Homo sapiens: one gene and its partners. The protein of the gene in region 1 interacts with the protein of each later gene in a pairwise test. Each region holds a gene or a part of one and is shown in the gene's direction. Other genes may lie near its edges.

Evidence for each region.
Region 2: the proteins of TRPV2 (region 1) and ARL15 interact in a protein complementation assay, tested with the Homo sapiens proteins (one study listed by IntAct).
Region 3: the proteins of TRPV2 (region 1) and OPALIN interact in a protein complementation assay, tested with the Homo sapiens proteins (one study listed by IntAct).
Region 4: the proteins of TRPV2 (region 1) and KCNJ10 interact in a protein complementation assay, tested with the Homo sapiens proteins (one study listed by IntAct).

The regions. Positions count from the first base shown.
Region 1 is NC_000017.11:16,418,571-16,425,594, forward strand, and holds part of TRPV2 (transient receptor potential cation channel subfamily V member 2), read left to right. Parts: intron 1-1,544; coding exon 1,545-1,678; intron 1,679-4,028; coding exon 4,029-4,319; intron 4,320-4,898; coding exon 4,899-5,197; intron 5,198-7,024. UniProt on the Homo sapiens protein: Calcium-permeable, non-selective cation channel with an outward rectification. Seems to be regulated, at least in part, by IGF1, PDGF and neuropeptide head activator. May transduce physical stimuli in mast cells.
Region 2 is NC_000005.10:54,307,561-54,315,061, reverse strand, and holds the start of ARL15 (ADP-ribosylation factor-like protein 15), read left to right. Parts: upstream 1-4,488; 5' UTR 4,489-4,582; coding exon 4,583-4,630; exon of another isoform or gene 4,631-4,652; coding exon of another isoform or gene 4,653-4,767; intron 4,768-7,115; coding exon of another isoform or gene 7,116-7,174; intron 7,175-7,501.
Region 3 is NC_000010.11:96,355,987-96,363,025, reverse strand, and holds the start of OPALIN (opalin), read left to right. Parts: upstream 1-4,023; 5' UTR 4,024-4,129; coding exon 4,130-4,132; intron 4,133-5,866; exon of another isoform or gene 5,867-6,116; intron 6,117-7,039. UniProt on the Homo sapiens protein: Central nervous system-specific myelin protein that increase myelin genes expression during oligodendrocyte differentiation. Promotes oligodendrocyte terminal differentiation.
Region 4 is NC_000001.11:160,067,154-160,074,099, reverse strand, and holds the start of KCNJ10 (ATP-sensitive inward rectifier potassium channel 10), read left to right. Parts: upstream 1-3,939; 5' UTR 3,940-4,078; intron 4,079-6,946. UniProt on the Homo sapiens protein: May be responsible for potassium buffering action of glial cells in the brain. Inward rectifier potassium channels are characterized by a greater tendency to allow potassium to flow into the cell rather than out of it.

The DNA.
Region 1 (7,024 bases):
TCGCAGGCTAGAGCTGCTTCCTGTTTGTGCTGGAGGACAGTGGTCAGATTCAGCACCAGGGTAGGGGAGGATGCATGAGGAGATTCTGGGAGCTGTGGAGCCTGCCCGACACAGGCAGGACGGGCCCTTGATGCTTTCAGTACCTCAATCTGTGCCCTCAATGGGCTTCCCTACCCCAGGACCATGATGCCACCCTGGTGACAGAAAGTTCTTTGTCCAAATGGCCACTTCTGCCAGCCAGACTGTCCACAGGGCTCCTGTCAGCAGCAGATAGAGCCCTCATGGTCATGTGTGGCTTCCTGGTGCTGACAAAGGAGGGCTGGCTGTAATTACAGTCATAGCTGTTGGCTTAAAAAGTCTACCCTTGAAATCCCCACCTGATTCAAGGAGGCAGAGGTTGCAGTGAGCAGAGATTATGCCACCATACTCCAGCCTGGGTGTCAGTGTGACTCTGTCTCCAAAAAAAAAAAAAAAGTGACGGATCCCAACAATCACCTTGTCACCAACCTTTACTTGGTTGACCCATTCCACAAGAGACATTAAGCTGGGACCTGAGGGTCTACAAATCATCAAATAGCACCCCCTGTTCTTTGTCTTCGCATATCTGCTGGTGGTGGTACCAGAAGCCCCAGAGGCAAGTTGGCCCCTGTGATTAGTAACACAGCCCAGGAGGGAATGACTCATGCCCTTCCCACTTCCAGTCACCAGACGCTGCTAGATTCTAGATTCTGACAAGCTACCAGATCCCTTCCGGGGTCTGTGGGAGAGATTTCTCATTAGGTGTGCCTTCTTGGTGGTGTCTGATATGTTTCAACATTGGGCCCAGCGTTGGGCCCAGGTAATGCTCTGTTTCTGGGAAATTTCTTGCTGCCAAGCCTAGAATCTCTCTGGGGATTCAGAGTCAGGGTCTAAAGTTAAACAGCCCTGCTGAGATTCCCAGTTTGGCGCTGTGTGACTTTGGCAAGTTACATGACCTCCTTGTTTATCTAATGGAGAAATGAGTAGTTTCTGACCAGCAGGGCTGAAGTGAAGATGAAAGGCACAGAATATTCTGTAGTTAATAGATGGTTTCTAAGAGGAGAAGGGAGATTTTCTGCATACTTTCTTTGAAGGCAGTGATGCATGCAGCCACTGTGAGTCTGCGGGGACCTCCCACAGCCCTATCCAGATCCAGCCCCAAGCTCAAGAGCCACCACAAGTGGTGTGTGCTGAAGGGGACCCAGTGGGATATCGAGGCTGTTGAGAGATGGTACATCAAGGCACCTGGCACATGACAAGCACCTGATGCTGAAAAGTGTCTGTGATGACTGGCGTCATGGGGATGAAGCAGCTTAGTGCCTGGACAGGCCCCTTTTCCTCCTCCCGGGGTCCCCTAGGATGGCTCTAGGAGGATAGAGGCCCTCAGAAGGGCTCTCACTGGGCTCCTGGGCCTGAGGGGTGTGCAGTGTGTACAGGACTCCCTGAAAGGGCTCCCTGGGATGGAGGGCTTTTGGGGGGGCCTGTGGTTCTTCTCCAGCATGAGTCACAAACCACATCCTCCACAGTCAGCCGGATCCAAACCGATTTGACCGAGATCGGCTCTTCAATGCGGTCTCCCGGGGTGTCCCCGAGGATCTGGCTGGACTTCCAGAGTACCTGAGCAAGACCAGCAAGTACCTCACCGACTCGGAATACACAGGTAGACCCTGCCCTGTGGATCCAAGGCTAGGCATCCTGTGAGCTGATAGTTAGGTGGGCTGTGTGGGCTTGATCCCTGGTCAGGAGCTGAGGAGTGAGTGTTCTCAGCAGCCCTCCCACTGGAAGGATGGCTGGGGGGCCCTGTGGACAGAGTTAATCAAGGATGGCCTCCTGTCAGTCTTGGCTGTGCCTCCCACTTCCACCCACCCCTCAGGCCTCCTGGCTACCTCTGTCACCCCTAGCCCATTGCAGTGGCTGAATGGAAACCCAAAGCAATCTTTTTTTATCTTTTTTAATAACAGTGTTGTTGAGATATAATATATAATGCACATACCATATACTTAACCCATCTCAAAGCACTCTTTGCCCAAAATCTAAATATCTGTATTGTTTGGGCTGATCAGAAAAATAACATGAGTACTCTAGAAGATTCAAACAGTAAGGAAACATATAGAGCCAAGGGTAAACACAGTCTCTCATCCTGGGCTCCAATTAATTGTTTGAGAATGCATCTGTTCAGACTTTCTTTCTTTCTTCTTTTTTATTTTTGGAGAGATGGGGTTTTGCCATGTTGCCCAGGCTGGCCTCAAACTCCTGGGCTCCAGTGATCCTTCCACCTTGGCCCCCCAGAGTGCTGGGATTACAGGTGTGAGCCACCGCGCAGGGCCTATCCAGACTTTCTTAATACATCAGTATATATTTACATAAATGGGGTCTTGACACATATACTAATTTGTAACGTGCTTTTCCTCCACTTAATACATCTTGTAGCACTTTCCATTTCAGTACATGTCTAACTTAGTCACTTTGACAACTGCAGAGTGAGTTTTCCCTTGTGTCCTTATCATCATTTAGTTAACCAATTCCTTACTTATCGATGGCCATTTTAGGTTGTTCGTAGTTTTTGGCTTCAACTAGCTGTGTGCCAGGCCCTCTGTGTGCTATCCACTTTGTTTATATTATTCCCCTTTTTTTTTTTGGAGACGGAGTCTTGCTCTGTTGCCCAGCCTGGAGTACAGTGGTGCGATCTCAGTTCACTGCAAAACTCCACCTCCCGGGCTCATGCCATTCTCCTGCCTCAGCCTCAGCCTCCCGAGCAGCTGGGATTACAGGCACCAGCCACCACACCTGGCTAATTTTTTGTATTTTTTTAGTAGAGACAGGGTTTCACCGTTTTAGCCAGGATGGTCTCAATCTCCTGACTTCGTGATCCGCCCGCCTTGGCCTACCAAAAATGCTGGGATTACAGGCGTGAGCCACCGCGCCTGGCCATTTTTTTTTTTTTTTTTTCCGAGACGGAGTCTTGCTCTGTCACCCAGGCTGGAGTGCAGTGGCGTGATCTCAGCTCACTGCAACCTCTGCCTCCCGGGTCCAAGCAATTCTCCTGCCTCAGCCTCCCGAGTAGCTGGGATTACAGGCGCCCAGCACTGCGCCTGGCTAATTTTTGTATTTTTAGTAAAGATGGGATTTCACCATGTTGGTCAGGCTGGTCTGGAACTCGACCTCGTGATCTGCCCACCTTGGCCTCCCAAAGTGTTGGGATTACAGGCGTGAGCCACTGCGCCTGGCCTTATATTATTCCCTTTGAACCTTACAATAATCCTGGAACATTCCCATTTTACAGTAACGAAAACTGAGATTAAGAGAGGCCACGTGACTTGCCAGAGGAGATAGAGACATTAAGTGGTGGAGTCATGTACAAATACTGCTCTGAATGTTCTGCTGTAGACAGCATTTCACGAATGATGACTTATGTCTTAGAAATTTAGTTTCTAAGCCGGGCGCAGTGGCTCACGCCTGTAATCCCAGCACTTTGGGAGGCCGAGGTGGGCAGATCATGAGATCAGGAGATCGAGACCATCCTGGCTAACACGGTAAAACCCGTCTCTGCTGAAAACAAAAAACAAAACAAAACAACAAAAAAAATTAGCCGGGTGTGGCGGTGTGCGCCTGTGGTCCCAGCTGCTGGGGAGGCTGAGGCAGGAAAACGGCGTGAACCTGGGAGGCAGAGCTTGCAGTGAGCCAAGATTGCGCCACTGCACTCCAGCCTGGGTGACAGAGCAAGACTCTGTCTCAAAAAAAAAAAAAAAAGAAAAGAAAAGAAAAGAAAAAGAAAAAAAAAGAAATTTCGTTTCTAGGGCAGAAATTGTAGTCATGTCTGTTGGTATTTCTTATCTGTTACTTGGAGCCTTAATAGCCTATAACATGGTTGTGCTCCCACCAGTTATGTGTAGCATCTCTTTTAATCCTCCCAAGGGGTACTTTGAGCTGGGCTTATAAGAGCTATCGGGCAGCCCAGCCACTCCAGGTCTCAGCACCACTGTGCCCCTTCCCCTCCCTTCTTCCCACAGAGGGCTCCACAGGTAAGACGTGCCTGATGAAGGCTGTGCTGAACCTTAAGGACGGAGTCAATGCCTGCATTCTGCCACTGCTGCAGATCGACAGGGACTCTGGCAATCCTCAGCCCCTGGTAAATGCCCAGTGCACAGATGACTATTACCGAGGCCACAGCGCTCTGCACATCGCCATTGAGAAGAGGAGTCTGCAGTGTGTGAAGCTCCTGGTGGAGAATGGGGCCAATGTGCATGCCCGGGCCTGCGGCCGCTTCTTCCAGAAGGGCCAAGGGACTTGCTTTTATTTCGGTGAGTGAGCCTTTCTTGGATAAATCGAGGCAAAGAGAGAGTAAGGCCTGGTTCAAGGTCACATGGTTAGTGTATGACAGAGCTGGCAGTTAAACCTAGGTTTTTCTGACCCCGATGCCCTGCTTCTAACCACTAGGCTGCCTGCAAAAGCAGTTTGTCTTTTGTCCAGGCCAGCCTCAAACTCCTGGGTTCTAACAATCCTCCTGCCTTAGCTTCTCGAGCTGGGGCTACAAGTGTGTGCCACCACATCCAGCATTAATTTGTCATAAGAGATGTTTCATCCTCGTCTGGCCAGAAGACGGGCATGCACCCAGACCCAGACCCAGGGAAAGAAATAGGGGCTGCTAGCACTGGCATGTGACTTGGCCAGGCAGAGCCTGAATAAAGAGGCAGCATGCCTGGGCTCTGGCAAAGAAGACAGCAAAAGGCAGCAGGTTGGCTGGCCCCTGTTCTGCTCCCTTCAGTGGTAAAGAAGCCTGACCTGTTTCAAGGAGGGCTGGCCTTTTGTCCAAGGAGCATGAGGAGTAGGCAGATGGAAAGCAGGAGGCCTGGGGCCCAAGCTGCTCTCTTGGCCTGCAGGTGAGCTACCCCTCTCTTTGGCCGCTTGCACCAAGCAGTGGGATGTGGTAAGCTACCTCCTGGAGAACCCACACCAGCCCGCCAGCCTGCAGGCCACTGACTCCCAGGGCAACACAGTCCTGCATGCCCTAGTGATGATCTCGGACAACTCAGCTGAGAACATTGCACTGGTGACCAGCATGTATGATGGGCTCCTCCAAGCTGGGGCCCGCCTCTGCCCTACCGTGCAGCTTGAGGACATCCGCAACCTGCAGGATCTCACGCCTCTGAAGCTGGCCGCCAAGGAGGGCAAGATCGAGGTGAGCGGCTGTCCCCTTCCCACTTCCCCTCTCCAGGAAGCAGTAGGTCTCATCCCAAAATTTCTGCAGAAAGAACCCAGGGGGTGGTGAAGAGCAGTGGCTTCTCTGCTTTTCAATGGAACACTCCTGTTAGTAAGAAAATTTTCAGTATGTACCTCTGATATATTTCTGTTTATTTATAAATTGCATATGAACTACTGAATATATTACATTATAAAACATTGAGATTTTTTTTTTTTGAGACGGTGTTTCGCTCTTGTTGCCCAGGCTGGAGTGCAATGGTGCGACCTCGGCTCACCGCAACCTCTGCTTCCCAGGTTCAAGCGATTCTCCTGCCTCAGCCTCCCAAGTAGCTGGGATTACAGGCATGTGCCACCACACCCAGCTAATTTTGTTTTTTTTTTTTTTGAGACGGACCCTCGCTCTGTCACCCAGGCTGGAGTGCAGTGACATGATCTCGGCTCACTGCAACCTCTGCCTCCCAGGTTCAAGCAATTCTCCTGCCTCAGCCCCCTGAGTAGCTGGGATTACAGGCACCCACCACCATGCCTGGCTAATTTTTTTTTTGTATTTTCAGTAAAGAGGGGTTTCACCATGTTGGTCAGGCTGGTCTTGAACTCCTGACCTCGTGATCCACCCGCTTCGGCCTCCCAAAGTGCTGGGATTACAGGCACGCGCCACTGCACCCAGCTAATTTTTTGTATTTTTAGTAGAGATGGGGTTTCACCATGTTGGCCAGGCTGGTCTTGAACTCCTGACCTCAGGTGATCTGCCCACCTCGGCCTCCCAAAGTGCTGGGATTACAGGTGTGAGCCATGGCACCCGGCCAAACATTGGGAATTTTTAAAAGTCGTTTGTGTTTCTTTATTAAGAGATAGCCTTTTTATATCTTTTGCCTATTTTGCTATTCTGTTTCTGCATATTTATTGATAACTTTATAATGAATTTAGTATTTTGTCTACCATAGCACTTGTAAAATTTCTCCTAGTTCATCATTTGTCTTTTGAATTTTATGTTTTTTTTGCTATACAGGATTTAAAAATTTTTATAATCTGCAAGTGTGACTATCTTTTCCTTTAAGGTTCCATGGTTTTGCTATTGTCTAATTCCTGCTACAAGATTTTATATATATAATACATATTATATGTACATAATATATGTTATAACTATTATACATTATATTATACATTATAATTATATATAGTATATATATAATCTTCATACCCATATTTTCTTCCAAACTTTTGCAGCTGCATTTTTTTTTTTTTTTTTTTGAGATGGAGTTTCGCTCTTGTTGCCCAGGCTGGAGTACAATGGCGCGATCTCGGCTAACTGCAACCTCCGCCTCCGGAGTTCAAGCGATTCTCTTGCCTCAGCCTCCCGAGTAGCTGGGATTACAGGCATGTGCCACCACGCCCGGCTAATTTTGTATTTTTAGTAGAGACGGGGTTTCTCCATGTTGGTCAGGCTGGTCTCAAACTCCCGACCTCTGGTGATCCACCTGCCTCAGCCTCCCAAAGTGCTGAGATTACAGGCATGAGCCGAAACGCCCAGCCTGCAGCTGCATTTTTAATGCCTAGAGCTTTGACTAGCTGGAAGTTATTCTGGTAGGAAGAGTAAACATGAGGCAGCCCCCACTTTGTTCCAGATAGCTTACCAATGGCCTGTTCCAAATAGCTTTTGCCAATAGCTCACCAGGGCTGGCCTCATGGGCTTACAGTGGAGATTTTTGAAAGATTAAGGAAACGATAAACATAAATAGAAGTTTTAACCCTTTTTCGCTGCCCTCCCAAGTTTTTTGGAGTGCTCCCTGGGGTGTGTGAACCT
Region 2 (7,501 bases), on another chromosome or scaffold:
ATTGGCTTGATTCCATTTATGAATCAAGCTCTGTTAGCGGCTTCATGTGGGGACACCCTGTTCTGATGAAGTTCATCTTCTGGGACACAGTGATACTTCATTTAGGTTTAGGAAGCAGAGAAGAGGACTGGGGTAAATCAGAGGTGGGTGTCAAGGTATCCACTGGAGAGAAAGGGAAAAAGGACTCAGAAGAGAATTTTAAAGTCACAGGAGTTATTGGATGTGGTAAGTGAGAAAAAGTGCCTGATGACCTCTGCAGAGCTGACCACTTTTTCTGAAAAAGAAGTGTCCATGATTTAAGAGTCATTATAATGAAAGATACCATCTTTCAGCTATTAAGGAATAATATTAAGGCAAAGATGAGACAAGATAATCATTCCCTACTTTGGAGCTGGGGGGTAGAAGGAAGAAGACTACATAAGCTAGGTCAAAACTGAGTATTAAAAGTGCTCAGCTGGGCGTGATAGCTCACGCCTGTAATCCCAGCACTTTGGGAGGCTGAGGCAGGCGGATCACGAGGTCAGGAGATCAAGACCATCCTGGCCAACATGGTGAAACCCCGTCTCTACTAAAAAAAGATACAAAATTAGCTGGGTGTGGTCACGTGTGCCTGTAGTCCCAGCTACTCAGGAGGCTGAGGGAGGAGAATCACTTGAACCCGGGAGGCGGAAGTTGCAGTGAGCCAAGATTGTGCCACTGCACTCCAGCCTGGCAACAGAGCGAGACTCCATCTCAAAAAAAAAAAAAAAAAAAGAAAAGAAGTGCTCATACTCTTTGTACCAGTAATTCTATTACTAGAAATTATTCTTAGGATAATAAGATGTGGATAGTTTTATAAGCAAACATTCACTGTAATATTTATAATAGTAGTAACTAATAAAGGATTTGTTAACACAGTAGTACATTTTTACAATAGTTTTATGTATCCATTAAAGATTTATGAAAAGTTTCAGTGAGATAGTGTATGCATGATACAAAACTAGTGAAGGCAGTATTCTCCTTGGAAACAACAAAAGAATAGCTGGAAATAACCACTAATATGTTGATTTTTCTGGAAAGTTGGGAGACCAAGTTGCAAAAATGCATTTCTGTTTTCATTCCTTGCAAGTGACAGTTTAACAAAAAATTTTCCTCCAAATTTGGCTAGCCAGCAGCCTTTATGGAATTTTAGAGTATGGACTGTCAAAATAATTTCTCTTTGCTTTTGACAAGCAACAGTGATGGCCTCTGTATTAGTCTGTTTTCACGCTGTTGATAAAGACATACCTGAACCTGGGCAATTTAGAAAAGAAAGAGGTTTAATGGACTTACAGTTCCACATGGCTGGGGATGCCTCATGATCATGGCAGAAGGTGAAGCAGGAGCAAAGACATGTCTTACATGGCGGCAGGCAAGAGAGAATGAGAGCTTGTGCAGGGAAATTCCTCCTAATAAAACCATCAGATCTCATGAGACTTACCACTATCATGAGGACAGCATGGGAAAGACTCGCCCCCTTGACTCAACTTCCTCCCACCGGGTCCCTCCCACAACACGTGGGAATTCAAGATGAGATCTGGGTGGGGTCACAGCCAAACCGTATCAGCCTCTTTCCTCAAAACCTATGCACTAATGCAATTGCCTCATGAGTTTACATGTTTCTTCCGCATCTGGAAGAGGGTCATTCTTTTCACTGACAGCAAGGGCAGAACTAGGTTAATGAGATCATGTCTTGTTCTGGATTGCAGTCTGTTACTTGGCATACAGTATGGTAGGTTGATTAAATGCATTCTAACTTCTCTACACTCTTTTAAAAAGCATGTATTGAGGTGATTACCTCAATAGGTGCTACCAACCCTATCAGCTATGACTGCAGCTTCATGTAGTGGGTAGTGTATTATCTGTTCATACCAATTCAGTCAAGTTAGCCTCTTTCCTCTGTAGGGGCGGACTCACTGACATCTCAGAAAACATCTAATTGAAAAAATGTGCTCCATATGGAGTTCAAAATCTACAGGTTGTTGTTGTTGTTTTATAAGGACTCTTTCCTAAAATGCAATATGTGATTTTTTAATACATTACACTGACTACAAGGTTTTCATTGATGCCAGTCACAATGAATGTGCAAATTGTGTGGAATAAAGTGAATATTATGGTGCAGTCTTTGGAACTTTTCCTTGAACATATTCTTTCATCTCCCTGCTTTGGCCCCATATACTAATTCTTAGAGGCAGCAAGAACCATACTGACCCTAATGACATGTTCAGGACTATCTTTCCCTAAGCTTAACTTTTAAAGGAAAGGCAGAAGCCACCTGCTTCTGAGTGGCTATCCTCCTCTGCATAGAGACTGATAGGCCTCTCGAAAGCCTGACTGGGCAGTAGCCCACACATCATTTATCACTAAGACAATGGTCCATAAGGTGTCTCTTTGCTAACTCAAGCCCTTTATCTTATTTTAAATATGCTTATTCACGAAGAAAAGCAAAACAAACAAAAAATGTTCCATGACTATTTCTGCTCATTGAGAGATTTTGTTTTCCAAATTAGTTTCAAACAAATTGTGCTAAAGAGTGTACGTTTATGGACGTCCATCTCCTCCAAAATCTAGGTGAAAATCTCTTCTAAACCTACATGTGTTTGAATTAACAGAATGCCAAGGAAAATCAAAATTGGATCTAATAGCACTTTGGGAGGCCGAGGTGGGCGGATTGCTTGAGTCCAGGAGTTAGAAACAGGCCTGGGCAACATAGTGAGACCTTGTCTTTACCCTTAAAATACAAAAAATTAGACGAGCGTAGTCGTGCACACCTGTGGTCCCAGCGACTCTGCAGGCTGAGGTGGGAGGATGCTTGAGCCGGCGAGGCGGAGGTTGCAGCGAGCCGAGATCGCGCCACTGCACTCCAGCCTGGGCGACAGAGAGAATCCCTGTCTCAAAAAAACAAAAACAACTTCCCCAACCCCGCCCCCCGCCCAAACCCTCACAACTTTCTGGCTGTAGGAATTCTCGTTTTGCAGCTGAGGAAACAGGTTTGGAAATTAGACTGCATACCTAAAATCACTTGGCTCATCAACCTACAGCTCCCTCTAGGGGGCTGCCTCGCCCTTATTGGTTATGTGCACATTTGGGGTGAATTCCACGGTCATCTAACAGAACTGTTTTGGTAGTCCCAGGTAAACTTACGGTACGGAAATTTGTTTCTTGAGGATACAAAAAAGAAAGGTGTCAGGGGGAAAGTAAAAATTCAACTCCTAAAACATCGCGTGTAGAGTCAGGCAGTCACTTCATAAAGAGTTCAGTCGATGAAGTTTCACTCTTGAAACTTTACTGTATGTATGCAAGCCCTAACTATTAATACAGGTGACAGCATCCACCTTATCTTCCATTCTCCCTAAGCCCTGAGGGTGGGGATGGGGGGGGGGGCACTCCAATCACCTGAGCCTAAGAACATAGCCTAAGAACATGTGTCTGGCATGGTCTGGTTATTTATAGCCTAAAAAAAAAAAAAGCCAGCTTCTTGTCCGATTCAGGCTTTCCCTGCCCAAACCCACTAGCTTAATGCGATATTGACATTACCAGGAAATGCATACGTCCCAAATGCATCTGCTTATAGATGTTTTTACCTCCTGAAATAATACCGGGTCACAAATACTGTTGTGTTTTTTGCAGAGAGCTTCTACTGCTCATTTAATTCAGGGGCGTTGGATTTGTGCTGAGCGTAATTTGACTCCAAGCATGCAAACTGATCAACTTCTTCCCGTGTGTTTGGGGAGTACAAGTGACTACTGCGACTCCTCAAATGTTTTTCTTTTCCTTTTCACGTGGAGGAAAGCGAATTCTCCGAAGACTGTTCGGCGTTCTACGCAGGGGTTGGAAGGGGGGTTCCTGAGTCACCTCTGGCTGCGCGGGGGGCCTGTGTGTACCCTCAGGGACACCAGGCTGGAATCGTCCACCTTACTTTCAAATGATAAAAGTGCGGAGGGTCTTTCTGCCCCTAAGTCGCGTACAGGATTGCCTGTTTACGGAGTACACTTTCACACACTTCTTTCCCGGTGGTGCAGTCTCGTGGCGGCAGAGCCTTTAGGAAGGCTCTGGGGGGAGACAAGATCAGTGGCGACCACGCCTCCCATGTTACAGCGCTCGCTTCCTACTGGGGGTTGGCGGGGACACCAAGGCTCTCCAGCCCGGGAACACGGAGTTCGGCTCCGTTGTACCCAACTGGAAAGCTGTGGAAACACAAAACTCGGGCGGCGACAGCACCAGCCGATTTTCCGCTCTCTTGGCTCTTTCTTCCGCTTGCACCGCCCCCACCCCGGCTCCTCCGCTCAGCACACAGGAACCCACATCCCCCACCACTCCCGCGTTTCTCTCCTGCCACCAGCTGGGGCCTGCCTTTTATAGGCGCCGCAGCCAATGAGCACGCTTCTTTCCTTCTGCCCGCCCGCCTGGCCAATCGCCGCGCCCCTTGTGTAATCTCCGGCTAGTCGGCTGCTTTCGGCTATTTTCGCTGTTGCTGGCTTTTTCAGGAGCTGCTCGCTCGCAGCCAGAGACGCTGCTTTTTTTTTCCGGGTTCGGAGCCGTTCCGGATGCTTTAGGCTGCCGGATGTCTGATCTCCGAATAACTGAGGCGTTTCTGTACATGGATTATCTGGTAGGTGCAGGGCAGGGGTGGCATGTCGCCTCTCGGATCTCGGCGTGCCCGATGGCCCCCTGCCTTGAGGAGCAGCCTTTTTGCTTTCTTTCTTTGGGATAGGATGCCTCTGGGGTTCTTTCTCCCGCAGCCGGCTGGTAAGCCTTTCCCTGGACTCGGAGGGGCAGCCTCCAGGGCGGGTGGGTGGTGGAGCTGACAGGTAAAGGTGCGGCCTGGGCCAGCACGGCTGCAGGGCGAGGGTCGCGCTGGGGCTGCTTGAGAGATGGGGCGGCCGCGGCGGCGCGTCCCCTGCCCGCGATCGGCTTCCTGGCTTCCCTCTGCGCTCTCCGCAGAGGACTTTCTTTCCGGGGGAGCAGGAGTTTTCCTCTCTCCCTGGAGCAGAACTCCAGGTGCTATTAAAGAGCCATAACCAGAATGGCTCACTAAGTGCCCAGCAGCCCTGGTCATTTGATTGTTATTAAATCTCTAAAGCTATGACCTCGGTCGTGGCGGGGTTTTAAAAGCACATTACCATAAAGCAGACGGGTCTAAACTACCTCGCAGGCTGGCACGAACAGGACTGAGTAGGGACAGGTATAGCCCCACCATTCCGGTCTTGGGTGCGTGCCGCGGTTCCACTGTGCACGGATTGGAACCCGGCTGTTTAGGCCAGGCTTGTGCTGAGAAGTTTAGGTGGGAAAAGTGTCAGCACAGTGCTGGGACCGAACATCATTTTAAAAATGGACTTCTATGTGTCTTTGTGGAATTATGCGAGCACCATGTTTTGTTCCAGAAATTATATTTCCCCAGAGTTGCTTGTTTGCGTTTAAGGGGATCCTCATTTACAGAGACTTGTGTTCGATCCTATACGATTATTGTGTTTACCATGTTGGGCAGAACCGCTATTGCCATGCAGAGTTGAAGTAGACGGTTAGAAACATTGACCCTCCTGTCATCTTGTTGGACACATGCACTCGGTTTTCGACTGCAGATTGGCCTGGCAGAGATTTGCCAGTGCCTTCTAGGAATTACACTTAAGGCTGTACTGAGAAAGTCTGTGCATGCTTTGATGGCCAAGAAACGCCGGACCGGCTTTGTGCTGTTATCTGTGTATTTGGGCTTATTTTAGTGTACATAAAGAAAATGTTTCTCCTAATGCTTCAGAGCTTGATGGTCTTGTGGGAAAGGATGGTGACTGCAGTTAATGCATAGCCTTGTGAATGGAGCTGGATCTAAAATTCTGAATTCAAGTTCTGTTTTGTTGTTCATTTGTTGATGGCAGTAACTTCCTTTATCTTTGTGATAAAGGGATATTATTCACCCAGTACTGTAGCTGGTTACGGGGATTATCTGATTATGAACATTCTTCACAATACAAGGTGCCCTGTAAGTTAAGAGAGCTGCCAGAAGATTATTTTCTAAGTTAAATAACTGATTTAATTTGTAATTTATCTTATAAAATACAATACATGGTTTTTGTCTTGCAGTCTGCCTAAATTAAAGCGAAAGTTTGTTGGGATAATTACCAAGTAGGAAAGGGTGACATTGCCTGTACTACTAAAAGCTAATTTTGAATACTTAAATAGTTCTTAAAAAAGAAAATCAGGTGGTTCTGACATTTTATTATTTTCTTTATTTACCGGATGTGTTTTAAATTTATAAATTGCATCACAAAGCTGTCTTTGAGGTGCCAAACCTATCAAAATGCTTAGTGAAAACAAAATTGATAACTCTGGTTAATTACTCAGGCTAACCTCTAGATAGGCATAGTCTAAAGGTGAGTGGATGAATGTTTGTGGGCCCAAGGTTACCTTAAAAGCAGATTAATTTATTTGCCAATTTACTAACAGCTTTGTGTCAAAATCAACAGGTCACAAATTTGACTTGGCCTTTTTGTTTTACCTGGGCTCAAGTTTACCCTAAAAGCAGATTAATTTCTTTGCCAATTTACTAACAGCTTTGTGTCAAAATCAGCAGGCCTCAAATTTGACTTGGCTTTTTAAAAAGCTTTACTTGCCATACATCTTAGTTTTACTTTTATATTTAAAAAAAATCATTATTTTGCCACTTTATCCATCTAAAATTCACAAGTGCAGTGACCAACCCCATAAAAGCCAGTGGCTACTCTTTGGAGGTGAGAAAAGAAATCTTAAAGGAAACAGTTTAGTTTTTGTGAGTGTGCCAAGTGTCCCCTGTGAAAAGATTTCAGAAAATTCTTTAGCATTAAACTGGATGGAAACAAACAGAAAAACCATCTCAAAACAAAAAACTAGCCCTCCCGAGGTAGCCTTTTTGTGTTCACCTTTTGCTTGTCGACTTTCAGAGAAAATGATGTGCCACACATTATTTTTCTCTTCCTGTCTTTCGGATTGACTTGCTTGCTTATGCATACTCTGTGTGGCGTTTATTAAAAGCCCTATTTCTGAGGAATAGAAATCAATTTATTTGCATCTGGTATCTTATTTTATTTTTAAAAAATTCCTGAGTTCTTTTACTTACCTTGCAGGGAAAAAAAATGCTCCTTTCATTCCAAGTTTGACTCCAGATTTTGCTGAATGGATTAGAGTAAGTTCCCTTTCCATGCACTGACAAGAATGATGGTGTGTGTCATTTCTTTTTAATCAGTATTTGACTTTCTTGTGTTGTTCCTGTTGGAAACTGGAAGAGAGAGCTGTGTGTGTGTATGTATCTATTGTTCATTGTTCTTTGGGCTGGATGTCGTCACTTAACCTTTTTATTTGGAGGAGAGTGGAAAGGAAGAAGGGAGAGAAAGGTGGAGGTGCTATTTTGTCTTAACAGGATTAATCCTTTTAATAAGATTGAGATATTAAAACAGATGAAGAAGCTCTACTGATCTTCGGGTCGCTGTTGATTTCTTAAAACAAATGTTCT
Region 3 (7,039 bases), on another chromosome or scaffold:
CTTCTGTTTGTTCTAAAATTTCACTTTATCCCTACCTTATTATTAACATTTTAGATAAAGATTTCTAAAAATTAGAACAAGGCCACTGCAACAATGTTTGTATACCCACAAAATTCATGTATTGAAATCCCAGCCCCTCATGTAATAGTATTGAGAGGCGGGGGCTTTGGGACGTAATTAGGTTATGAGGCTCCAGAGAGATCCCTCAGCCTCCACGTGAGGACACAGAGAGAGGACAGCTGCCTAGGAACCAGGAAGCAGGCCCTCACCAGACACTGAATCTCCTGGCACCTTGATCTTGGACTTCCCAGCCCCCAGAACTGTGATAAATAACTTTCTGTTGCTTATAAGCCACTCAGTCTGTGGTGCTCTGTTTTAGCGTCCCAAATGGACTAAGACAGCCACCTGTCATTTAGAATGGTCCAGTTTTTTAAGCTGACCGGTTGTTACAGGGAAGACCATCCATGTGATTGGGCTTGTACAAATTTAAATGGTGACAAAATATAAATGATCCGAGATTCTCAGAGTTGGTGGCCCCAATCTTTCACCCACTAAGGGCATTCCATCTATGGTTTCTAAGGAGATGATTCTCAGGCCCGACTTCCAAAGAAGGAGAGCTTACTCACTTCATCCATTCCTTCTCCTTTAGGTAACAATGCCAAATTCATTTTGCAGAACCACCTCTTCTTCCATTGGAGGGACCCTCACTGGGGGGACTGTTAGCCAGGTGGTACATCATCCTTGGCCATATGAACCAAGCCAGACCAACCAAATCCTCTTCCTGGGACTGGAGTCCTGATCAGAGAGGCAAAAGGGCTGAGATATTTTGGAGCTCAGTTTCCCTGGAAGGACACCTCTGAAAGACCGTCTGGGAGTTGCTGCTGCTGAAGGTTTGGGAGCAACCTCACTCTGTCCTTCCAGAGCCTGGTTCTCTAGCCCTCTGTCCTTTCTGAGAGCTCCACTATACTCAGTCAGTAAGTTCTCCTTTTCTGTATTGTATTGTATTGTATTGTATTGTATTGTATTGTATTGTATTGTATTGTATTGTACTGTACTGTACTGTACTGTACTGTACTGTATTGTATTGTATTGTATTGTATTGTATTGTATTGTATTTTGAGATGGAGTCTTGCTCTGTCGCCCAGGCTGGAGTGCAATGGCATGATCTTGGCTCACTGCAACCTCCGCCTCCCAGGTTCAAGCGATTCTCCTGCCTCAGCCTCCCGAGTAGCTGGGATTACAGGCATGTGCCACCATGCCCAGATAATTTTTGTATTTTTAGTAGAGATGGGGTTTCGCCATGTTGGCCAGGCTGTTCTCGAACTCCTGACCTCAGGTGATCCACCCGCCTAGGCCTCTCAAAGTGTTGGGATTACAGGCGTGAGCCACTGTGCCCGGCCAAATTTTCCTTTTCAAAAAATTAAGCAGAGTCTGGTTTTGATGCTTGTGACTGGGCAGTCATGACTGATGGACACTTAGGCAGGGGTACCAATTGCCTGAAGATGTCAACAATTCTTCTAAAGAGATAATGTGTCCATCAGAAGGCAGAGTTATGGATCAGTGGATGCACAGCAAACAAAAGTGCCAAAAAGGACCTCAGTGGCCCTCCCCATCCACAAACAGCCTTGCCAGAGAGTGCTGGGGCCATAAACTGGAATTCTATGGTCCAGGTTGATTCTACGCCAGTCAAGGAAAATTAAAAGCATCATTTGTACGAGCTGTGCTGATTCAAGTAGTCTAATTGCATAAATTGTATCATCCCTGCTTTGTAGATTAAAAGACTCAGACTGGAAGAAGTTATTTCACTTGCCTAAGACCATGCAGCTTCCAGTAGGGCAGCTGTGGCTCTAAACAGAGGTCTCTCTAGACCATGTTGTCACCAGTAGGTTCAGTTTAGGCTGTCACTGTGGAGTCTTGGAAACTGGAAGCCCACAAGGCAGAGGCCTCATTGGTCTTGTTTAGGATAGCATCAGTGTCGGCCATGTTGCAGGTGGCTGATTACCACAGTCTAAGAACTGATTAGAACAGCAGCTGTCACCCCTGACTGCTCGTTAGCGTCCCCTGGGGATGCCCCTGCCTCACTCTGATCAATCAAGTCAGAGTCTCTGGGGGCAGGTTCTAGGCATCAAGAGTTTTTATAACCAGCCCCCTACCACTCCCTAGGTAATTCAGGTATGCAACCAGGATGGAAAAACCACCTGATTAAAGGCAATCTGGTCTCCACTGTGCCACTAAACTGCTCTTGTCAAGGCCACCAGCAACCCCGATACTGGGAATCAGAAGGCTCTTCTGACCTCTTCGGAGGCTACCTCTCAGCAGCAGTTGATACAATTAACCAACATCTACTCCCCTTCTTGAATCAAATTTCTTTCCTGTGACCCCCGAACTTATCTGATTTTCCTGCCTCACTCAACTCTCCTTGCTAGTGACACCCCCTCTTCCAGGCTGCTAAATGTCTGTGAACCCCTGGCAGCTGTCCTGGCCCTCTGCCCTGTCTACCTGCTCATGCACACCGGGGGCTTTAAAACCATCCACAGGCCGGCCACTCCCAAACGGATGTCTTCAGCCCCAGATCCCCTTTATCCAGTCGCCTACTTGGCACCCACACTTGGACAGCCCCTAGGCTACTCAGGTGTAAGGGCAATCTGTTTCTCCAGTATTACCTGCCTAAGCTAATAGCATCTCCATTTTTGTTAGTCAAGCCTCAAACCCAGGAGTTGGCTTTATTCTTCTCTTTCCCTCACCTCGCCCTTCCCCGCCCCATATTTTTTTCATCATTTAATCCCAGTGGCTCCACCTCCACAGTAGAGAGCACAATCATTCACTGCTGTCTTCCTACAGCAGCCACCTTCATCGCTCACCTGGACTCCACTAGCCAGCCACCTGCTTCCACTCTCTTCCCCTGTAATCTTGGCTCCACAGAGAAGCCCTAGCAATCCTCGTCACCAGCAATTACATCATGCATCTCTCCCACTGAAAAACCCTTGGAAAAGGTTTCATCTAAGGATGAAAATCTTACCATGCCCTCCCATGTCACATCAAAAGGGCTCAAACTCACTCCGTCCTTAGCCCCTTCCCGGGTGACTCCCTGGTTTATGTTGTTCCAGCCAACCGGCCTCCTGCCTGCTCTGGGAGTGCACCAAGCTTACAGGGCTTAGCATTTGCTGTGGCTTCTGCCTGGGACTCTCCTCCCTCAACCCTTCACATGTCTGCCCTCTTCTCATCTTTCACGCACAGCTTCAGTGCCATCTCCCAGAGTCATCTAAACAACGGCCTCCTCTGTCACTTGAGTCGCTCTCTCCTTACACTCCTATCTGCTCCTCTCACAGTGGTTTTCATTTCAATGGCCAAATTATTGGTTTAATTCTGTTGTTTTATTAGCAACTCATTCACCATTTTAAAGAGGCAAATCCCTAACAGGGAAATTGTAAGTTATAAAGCAGCCCAAGTCCATGGCTTCCTCCAGGTCTAGAGAGCTTCCCACCCAAAATACAAAAACAGAGAGGGGGTGAGGCTGAACTCACACCAGGCAGCTCATTGGCCACTGAGTGCAGCACCTTGCAGCAGCTGGAGCCCCCAGCAGTGTGACTCCTGCAACAGAATGGGCCCCCACCCCTCCTCCAGACATCCCGAATGTCCATGCTGTTGTCCATGTAACACAATGACTCCATCATTATCAGTAACATGGTTAATGTGGACTCCCGTCAGCTGGGGATGGAGTGGCCAGCCTCAGCCTCATGTAACCCATTGTTTCCAAAGGGCTGCAGGCTGCAGAAGCCCCCAAGCTCTCAGGCCAGCTGTGGCTTCTTTGCTGAGATGGAGGTATAGCCAAGAAAGCAGCCTGAAAAGTAAGGACAGAAAATCAAGGCAAAGAGGGTGGGTGAACCAGGCCATACACGTCGGCCATGCAGCAGCAGCCCATCTTTCCCGAGGGATGGACTGAGGGCTTGGCTACTCCCCTGACCATAAATGGCTTGGCCAGGGTTCTCTTGGAGCCACCTCTCAGCCTGCCTCTGCAGCTTTGTCAGTTAACTGTTCCTACAAATGAAAGACACAAGCCAATAAAGCCAGTGAGAAAGGAGCTTACCAAAGGCAGTGTACGAAGAAGGTTCCTGGGAGACTGTCAGAAATGGTGAGTGAAAGCTGGCATCTCTTCTCAATCGAACTTTCATTTCTTACTATAAAAAACCTCCAAATTCAATTAAATGTACAATGAAGTAAAGGGACTTTATTTTAAATTATTTTCCTATATGCAAAATACCAATAATTTTTTAAACTTCTCACCTAATATTTGCTGATCTTGTCTTTCATTTTGGTATTAAGGTTTGTTTTTAAAACCCCACATACAAGAGTACAGAGTAGATGTTTCACCTATGTTCCCTTTCTAGTTGAAGCAATGGATCTAATCAACGATTTTATCTGTCTTACTTGTTTAATCTGGCTTTTTGTTCCATCATCAGCAACATGGATGGTCATCATTGATCAGAAATTTTCCATCTTTCTTGTTTACTTGTGATAAATATTTTGTTGTGACTCAATCAAATGAAGTTTGCTAAGTTAGAAGAGAAAACAAGAGGGTTCTGTGATTTACTAAAGAATTATGGAAACAGCCTAGGTGTCCATCAGTGGATGAATGGATAAAGGGACTGTGGTTTATATGTATATATACAACTGAATATTAGCTTTAGAATAGGAGGAGACCCTGCCATTTGCCATGTTTGTCCTATTTGGACCTGGAGAACATTATGCTAAGTGAAATAAGCCAGACACAAAAAGAAGAATATTGTGTAATCTCACTTTCTTGTGGAATTTTTTTTTTTTTTTTTTTTTTTTTTTTTTACAAAAAGCATTGTTAAAAGGAGTAGAGCTCAGTCTGTGGAGTTAGGGAGATCTGTGATCTAACCTGATCTCTACCACTTAAAAGCTGGTGAGCAAAAACCTATCTTGGTCTCAGTTTCCACAGGTATAATATAGGAATAATAGTGCTCCCTTCATGGGGAGGTTGTGAGTATGGGGTCTTATACCCAGCACACCTTCAACAGCAGTAAGTTTTTATCCTGTCTCTTCCTCCTTCCTCTCACAAACTGCAAACTTATAATGAAGGACGTTCAGCCACTGAGATCCCAAAATGCCTTCAGAATCATTGTGTAGATACTGCATAGTGCTCAGACTAGCAGTAAGCAATAATTGCATTGTATCCAATTCTAGTACTTTGACTATCACTAACTCATGCTTGCAATTCCATTCCACAAGAACTTTCCTATCCTTAGCTCTGTGCTGGCCAGGCCATAAAGAATATGCTACCACGTGATCCCTAAAACACAGAGGGTGTTTTACAGTTTGGGAGAAAGGAGCTGCCACAGATGACATTACGGTATTCCCTTGTGAAGTGGGCAAGGCAAGTTAATAGTATCCCATTTTGAGAATGGGAAAACTGAGCCTTGGAGAATAGATTTGTTGTGAGAAAATGGAGACCAGAGGGTTTGAGTGACTTATCCAAGACTACACAGCTCCTAAGTGGCTAAGTGTGGGCTCGAATTTAGATCAGGTGGCTCCAAGCTCAGGGTTGCATCATCCCACTCAGCTGTGTCTCTGAAGGGCACTGCATCAGATTCTTCTCCACCCTAATTTGTGCGATGTTTTTCTCTCCATGAGAGCACTGTACTGTGTTTCTACAAAATATGAGTGTCTTTCTGAAATTGGCCAAAATCTCCGTCATCCGAATGTTGATAAACAACACATGCAATGGCCCACTTGTTGCTGCACCCCCTCTTCTACTGTCCTCCCAAAGGAAGCTTTGTCTTAGGGCTGCTGACATCAGTCCTCAGTGCCCACTGATGAGATAAAGCTCTGGGCAGCTGCATTCAGTGCAGCGACCATCCAGTGTCCTTGCAGCACGTGTTGGTCTGGTGCTAGCGTGAAGAGCAGTGGTTAGGTCCCTTGAGCAAGAGGACCCTGACCTAAGAGGCCCAGACGTCCCTGTGTTCCACCGTCATCCCAGAAGCAGAGGTGCACAGTGCTGTCAGCCTGGGTGCTCTGATTCATCCACAGAGACTACTGGAGTTGCTTGGAAGCCTTGCAGAGTGGTGGAAAGAGGTTGTCACCGGGACACTCAGGTTCTGGTGACAGCTAAGTAGTTGTTTGGACTTGGGAAACCTGTTCAAATTCTTGAGGCTTGGTTATTCTCTATAAAATGCGGGTGTCCTATTGCCAAGAGGGGGAGAAGTGAGCAGAGGCACCACTGAAGCGTGCTAGTTGAGCAGGGCCACGTTGATTGAAGGACATAATATTTGGGGCAAAAGCTAGGGGGACTTACACATTCTAGGTGCTTAAAACACTTCTGGTTCACAAAAGATTTTCTTGTTCATTAACCCATCTGAATTCCAATCCATCAGTAAGTCAGCTGAAATAGGTGTTTTGTCAGTTTGCTTCTGTTGGGATGAGATCCTCTGTTACCATCTTTCGGGTTGGGGTTGAGTCACATAGACTGCGGCCCATTGGCTGGTCTATGTGGCTCCAACTGTTCTCATTTGTCCATGAGGTGATTTCTGATAAGTCCCTGGGTTTCAGTTTCCTCTGCTGGAAAATGAGGGTTTTGAGAGAGATGATCTTTCAGGTAATTCAGGTGTGAAACATGATTCTTTTGGATTCTTTAATGTTTCACAACTTTCCTATTGTTGGATAACATTTAATTTTAAAACTTAATGAATGCATTGTTTCTACAATGACAGAATCTGGTCTTGGGATGCTGGAAAGACGGGAAGCTGTGGTGTAGACCAAGCCCAGGGAAATATCTGGGGGTCAGGGAGACCGAGGCTGAAGGAGGGCCCAGCCAGGAGGTATTAATCCAGGGTGGCTGGACCCAAGGGGCTGAGAGTCCAGAAAGTGGGAACAAGACCACTTCCACCCAGGGAAAGAGGGGAAAATAGTTTCACTGGCTGAGTCAGAACAGGTCCACCCATCATTCCAATCTAGGTAGGGAAAGGACTTGGTAAGGAGCAGCCTGGAAAGGCTAGAGTAACAGGGGCTAGGGACAGGG
Region 4 (6,946 bases), on another chromosome or scaffold:
CAGCCTAGGGGACAGAGTGAAACCCTGTCTCAAAAAAAAAAAAAAGATTAAAAATTAAAAAAAAAAAAACCCAGAGAGTGGGTAATTTATAAAGAAAAAAGGTTTAATTGGCACACAGTTCTGCAGGATTTACAGGAAGCATGGTGCTGACATCTGCTCAGCTTCTCAGGAGACCTCAGGAAGCTTTTACTTGTGGTGGAAGGCAAAGCAGGAGCAGGCACATCACATGGCAAAAGCAGGAGCAAGAGAGAGTTGATGATGGGGGATGTTGCCATATACTTTTAAACACCCAGATCTCACGAGAACTCACTATCATGAAGATAGCACCAAGCCGCTGAGGGACCTGCCCCCATGATCAAAACACCTCCCACCAGGCCCATGTCCAGCATTGGCATTAAAATCCAGCATGAAATTTGAGCAGGATCAAAGATCCAAACTATTATTACCTGGTGAGAGGTAATGGTGTCCTAGACTACAGCAATGATAGTGGAATAGAGAGGAAGGGGACAATATTGAGGCTATTTAGAATACAGATGCATTGATTCAATAAGGGAGATGAGGTGAGGAAGATTGAAGAATCTAGGATGGCTGCCATGTTTCTGGTTGGGTGATGATAGTGTATCTACCATGGTAGAGAATAAATGGAGAGGAGCACTCTTGTGAGCAAGGTGACATGTTCGACTTTAAATATGTTGAGTTTGAAATGGATATCCGGGTGGGCTGGACATATTGACACATGGGTGGTAGTTGAAGCTAAATGGATGGATAACATTTTTGGAAAAATAATAAGTGCACAATAAATGTCTGTTAATGATCCATAAATCATTACAGTCCCTTTGCTTTCTCTTCTGTGGTGTTCTTCATGTTTATTTTGGAGTTCCACCAGAGCCTCCAAGCTAAGCTTGTCCAACCCACCGCCTGTGGGCTGCATGCAGCCCAGGACAGCTTTGAATGAGGCCCAACACAAATTTGTAAACTTTCTTAAAACATCATGAGGGTTTTTTTTGTGATTTTTTTTTTTTAAAGCTCATCAGCTACTGTTAGTGTTAGTGTATTTTATGTGTGGCCCAAGACAATTCTTCTTCTTCCAATGTGGCCCAGGGAAACCAAAAAATTGGACACCCCTGCCTAAGTCCTCTCTGTCTGTGAATGTCAAGACTGTGGCCCCCTTAAGGATCTTTTGGATGTCCTATTTTTTGAAACTTAAAGGTCTTATACCAGTCTTGCAGGCTGGCCCTCAGACCACCTCACCACAGCCCCTCATCCATATTGACTTAGGAAGAGAGGGCATTCGGAGTGTGAAGAAGAAAAACTGGAAGACTGTTTCTTTTTCTTTTTATTTTGTGTTTTGTTTTGTTTTGTTTTTGGAGACAGAGTCTAGCTCTGTCCCCCAGGCTGGAGTGCAGTGGCGTGATCTCGGCTCACTGCAACCTCTGCCTCCCAGGTTCAAGCGATTCACATGCCTCAGTCTCCCAAGTAGCTGGGATTACAGGCGCGTGCCACCAGGCCCGGCTAATTTTTGTATTTTTAGTAGAGATGGGTTTTTGCCATGTTGGCCAGGCTGGTCTCAAACTCCTGACCTCAGGTGATCCACCCACCTTGGCCTCCCAAAGTGCTGGGATTACAGGCATGAGCCACCTGGCCTGGCCTGTTTCTAGTACATTGTCTGGTTTCTATTTCTCTCCTCTCTATGAGTAGAGTTCTCAAAAGTGTAACCTATACTTGCTGACAGTTTCTCACTTTCTAGTGGTAACTTGTAATCTGGTTCCCACCTTGCTCACTCTTCTGAAATTGCTCTCAAATGTCACTAGAGACTTTGTCACTGCCAAACCCAATGCCTCTTCTCTCTGTACTTGTTGGCACTGTTAGAACCTCCTCCTTAACAGTCTCTCCTTCCTTAGCTCCATGACATCTCACTTTCTTTGTCTCCTTCCTGCCTGTCTGGTGGATTCTCTTTCACTCTTTGGGGGTCCTTCTTCTTCCCATCCCCTAAACATAGGTGTTCCTCACTCTCTGTGCCAGGCTCTCATTTCTCTGTGCAGTCTTTGTTGGGATCTACCCTGTTCTCATAGCTTCAACTCACACTGCCCTGGCAGCAATGACCTCCTTTCTCTCTCTGGTTCTGACCCCTCTCCACAGCTTCCAGCTCTGAACTCATCACTTCCTCTTCCCCCACCTCAGTCTCCTCACCAGGTGTGATCCCCCCCAGGCTCCCCTATGCCCGTGAATGACCTCGCAGTTCTGATCACCTGACTTGAGACTCTAGTATGATCTCTGAAGCTTCCCTCTTTTGCTCAACATGTCAAGTTGGCTTCAAACTTTTTTCATTTTCTTTTGATTTTTCTGTACTCCAATTCATTTTCTGTGTTCCACTTTTCACCATTGCCACGCTGATTTGGGCTGTCATCTCTTCATGCTTATATTATTGCAATTATTTTCTATCGTCTACTTGCCTACTATATCCACTTGGTTCAAACTATTTTGTCACCTCCCGATTAATTTTCCTAAAATGCCATAGCTTTCTCCTACTCCATCCTTCCCAAGAACCTTCAATTGCTCTCCGTAGCCTACAGAAACTCTGGCCTGACCACAAATCAGCACAACTCTGTGTTTCTTCCGGATGTTCCCCTTAACACAAACACTGCCTATGGTGCCTAACCTTTAGTCCCGTCCTTCCAGCTTCTCCAATGAGGCTATTTGAATGGACATTTACTTATCTTATGGCTTTTAGTGGTTAAACTAAGCTACATTCCTAGTTTCTTTCCTTTTTTTACCTGAATTTATAGCAATTCAATATGGTAACACTGGTTATTGATTAGCAGTTAAATGTTTATGATGATCAGAAATGAGGAAATAATTATATTCTTTTTAAATAAATGCTGGGGGTGGGGGTGAATTAAAACCTCTCAACACATAGATTCAGAAAATTAAAGAAATCTTTGGTGATGAAAGGGTTGAGAACCATCACCCTGCACTCTAATCTAGTAAATGGGACAGTTTGATGCTGTTTCCCAAGTGAACTTGTATTTTCACGTCTCCCCAGGACTCTGCTACGTTGTTCCCTCTGCCTTAAATGCAACAGAGTCCTGGGGACCATCTCTCAGCACCTGAATCTTCTGCTTCCTTTGGGACCCTAATCAGATGTTACCTCTTTCCTCCCACATCTGCTAGGAGCCCTCTGAGTAGAATGACCTCTCCCTTTTACAGCCTTCAGTACCTCCCGCACTTCGCTGAGGGTTCCGGCCTTATCTTTCCTTACAGAGAAAGCCGCTGCAGGTGGGCACCGTGTGCTGCGCGTCTCTCACCCAGCACCGCACCGGGGACTTAGGAGACGGTGAACAACACGGGAATTGTGCCCAAAGATACAGTCCTGTGGCTCAGGGAGCCCAGGCCTACTCCGCCCCAATCTCACTTCCAGGCGCCGCCTTCGGCGCTGCCTGCAGGGCCACTGGGCCGGTCCTGAATTCATTTCCACTTCGTTAACTCGGTCCCAGTCCCGCCCCCCGGCTCCAGCTCTCGTAACCCATCGCTGACAGGACCGCCTCCCTTTTCTTCCTTCTCCCTTCCCCTGTCACCCTGCCAGCTCAGCTCCTATCGTTTCGCATATCGTCTCTTCATCTCTCTTTCTCCCCGGGTCTGTCTGGGTCTCTGTCTTTGGATATTTCTCTCTGCGCCTGCAGCTGTCTGGGTCTCCGCTTCCTTGCCCCGCACGCCCCGCCCCCTGCCCAAGACCCTCCAATCTCGGCGGCTCGAGCCTGGCGCTCCACTCTCCCATTGGTCTGTTCGGAGCCCCCCGCCCCCGCCTGCCCGGCCCCCCTCCGGGCCCCTCCATTCACACAAAGTTTGGCTCCGGCGCTGCGGAGGGAGGGGGCGGCCCGGCCCGGCCCAGCTCTGCCCCCGGCCGGCCCGACCCCGGCCCCGGCCCCCGGACAAGCCCTTATCTGATCCCAGCTCCGGGTTTAAGAGTCCTGGCCCGGCCCGTCGCACAGCTCTGCTCCTAACTCCTGCCCGCCCCGTCCGTCCATCTGTCCCGCTGCCCCGCGGCCCATCCAAGGGGCCACTCCACCTCGGACCCAAGGTAAGACCCTGGCCCTGATGAAGGAGTTCTGCCGCCCCGGCCGGGTCCTGTCCCCCTAACTCTCCAGAGACATCGGGGTCCCAGATCCTCAGTCCCTACCCTGCCTGGCCTCAGCGGTACCACCGTCTTGTTCCCCTGCCTCCCGCCTTGGGCAGTCCCAAATGGAGCCTCCTGGGAAGGGCTCCCCACGAGGAAACTAGCCAGGCTGGTCACCTCAGCCCTTTCATCTAAGGAAGGGGCTTTCCCGATGCCCCCTCCCACTGGGCAGACCAGCAGTTGCATCCCTGCTCCTCTAGTTAATACAGTGACAACCACACATAACCAGGCACCCCATACACAGGCACAACAGACAGTGCGCCCTCCTCCCCATATGGACAGGTTACTCCCATCCCCAGCCCCTCCCCCACTCCCCATACAGTGACAATCACATAGTGACACCCATGATCGCTAGTTCCCACATGGGGAGAAAAACAGATACTGGCAGCTTAAACCGGGGAGCCACCAAAGCCTGGTGTGCTCCAGACCCCTGCCCACCCAATCTCTTCCTTCTATTCTGAGTGGCTCCCATTTTAAGACATCCCTCCTCATGGCCCCTCACCCTCACCCCAGCTGTTTCGCACTGGGATTTCCAGAAGGAAAGGAGCAGGGCCACTTCTGCTAGAGTGAGAAGGGCAGATTGGGTTCTATAAACTCACCCTCCAGATGGAGACGCCCCTTCCCATTCCATTCCTCCTCTCATCAGAACTAACCCAGGGCACCTGTGTTAGGGAACAGATGAAGGATGGAACTTCCTGATTTGGGGGAGGAGAGCTGAACCCAGGAATGGGTAGAAGGACAACACTGGGAAAAAGTGAGGGTGGGTTCTGGTGTCTTGAAGTTTAATTCCAGTGAGTGCCCCAGGCAGGGTGAGGCAGATGGGGAAGAAGCTGGTGCAGATTTGGACCCCAAAGAGGCCAGTGCTTAAAGCCTGCTTCTGTTGCTTACCAATACAAATTCTGACTAAAGATGTCTGGCCAGTCTGCTCTTGCTGTGGTGTTTGAATTTTTTTTCTCCCCACTGGGACTGCTTTAGGCTGCCTGGGTGGGAGGGAGATAATGACAGGAGATTTAGGGCCCCCATGTGAGAGATGGCCTTGTTTAAGGGTGCTGAGGAGGGCCTGGAGTGGTTGTCATGAAATTAGCCCCAGGAGGGGTGGGCAGCCACCAGTGAGTTCAATTTAGTTTCATCCTGAAACTCTCTCCCTAATCTCCAAGGATTTTTGAACATATTCCTGGCATGATGGTGGGTACCATCCTGTGCCAAGTGGTAGGGCTTGTAAATTTCTCTGGGGGTAGACTGGGTATAGGGGACCAAGTTTGGAAGGAACCAGGCATCCTGACTCATAGCTGGTTCTTCAGGGAGGAAGAAACGAGGGAGGAGGGGGATGGAAGGCATCATGCCAGGGAGAGGGTCCAGGGCTGGATTGTGGAGGCAATAGGCACGGCCCAGGCAGTGCCAACTCCTTTCCCCGCTGCCTTCCCCCAGTCCTTTGGTGGTGGTGGCAAGGGAGGAAGGGAGGGAGAGGGTGTTGGGGGGTGATCTGGGCTGGTCCAGCCTCCCAAAGCCCTTGCCAACCTGGGTCCTGAAAGGAGCTGCTGTTTTCTGAGCCATCCCCCCACCCCCCACTCAGAGCCTGAGCAGCCAAGTTGTCTCAGCGGATATCAAATGGCAATGACTCCACCGATGGAGGGTGGGTGGGGAGTGGGAGTGGCAGGGGTAGCAGGGTTATGGTTCCAGCCCCTCTGTGGCTCTAATGCAGAACCCCTCTGCTATCCCTTACCCTGAGGAAAAAATAAATCCATCTTCCCCAACATCTGACCCACATCCAGTCTATGGGTGCATATGTTTGTGTGAGGGGATTAATGATCTGCCCGCTGGTATCCCCTACCTCCTCCGTGTGCCCCATTGAACCACATTCTAGCTCCCTCCCACCTGCATCACTGTGCATAAGCTCATTTACAGCTCCAGCTTGGTTGGCTTGAGCTACAAGGAAGTGACTGGCAGAGGACCCGGGGACCTTCCTTCCCTTGACCTTCCTTGGGACCAGAGAGGCTGGGACACTTGGATCACGGTGGGCTCAGATGAAGTCCTCTGGAGTCATTCTGTGATTGGCAGGATAGGGGGTTTAAAGCTCTAGGGGGTGGGTCATGCAGAAAGATCTGTTTCCTCAAAGGATACTCCTGAGCCTCCTGGTAAAACTCTTGGTTTCTGCACACAAGATGGAAAGATAGGCCGAGCCTCCTGGCATTGGTGGGGAGGAAAAGAGACATTGGGCAATGGAGTCCCTAAGCTTTCCAGCCACAGGTTATTTAGGACGGAAGAAAAAAACCTCCACTCTCCCTCCCCTCCTCGGCCTAGATTCTTCTCTTGCCTGACTGGTCAGTGCTACTGTCCAGGCTGAGGCCAAGCTGTCCAGGATAGCAGTGGGGCCCTGGAAGGGGGCAGAGAAGGAATCAGCCAAGGCACATCGTTGAGATGAAACTACAGAAAGATTGGAGAGGAAAGGGAGATTTAAAATCTAAGTGTTTTAGCACCCAATGGTGGGTGGTTGGCTGGGCAGCTCCTGGGAATGGGAGTTTGCCATGTCACTTCGGTCTCTCCAGCAGGCTGAGTTCAATGCTTTTCTTCCCTCATTTGAGTTTAGCCTACATGTTTGCCACCATTCTTTAGGGAGAGAGTGCATCTGGTGGCCCCTCTTCCTCCCCTCCCCCATCAGAACCTTGAAAGGGCAAAGAGAAAGGGATTGTGGGAAATGCCCTCCCGTGGGTGTTTGCCAGCTTGGAGCCTGGATTTGAGGTGGTGGGGGAAGGGAGGGGCTGGCTCTGGAAT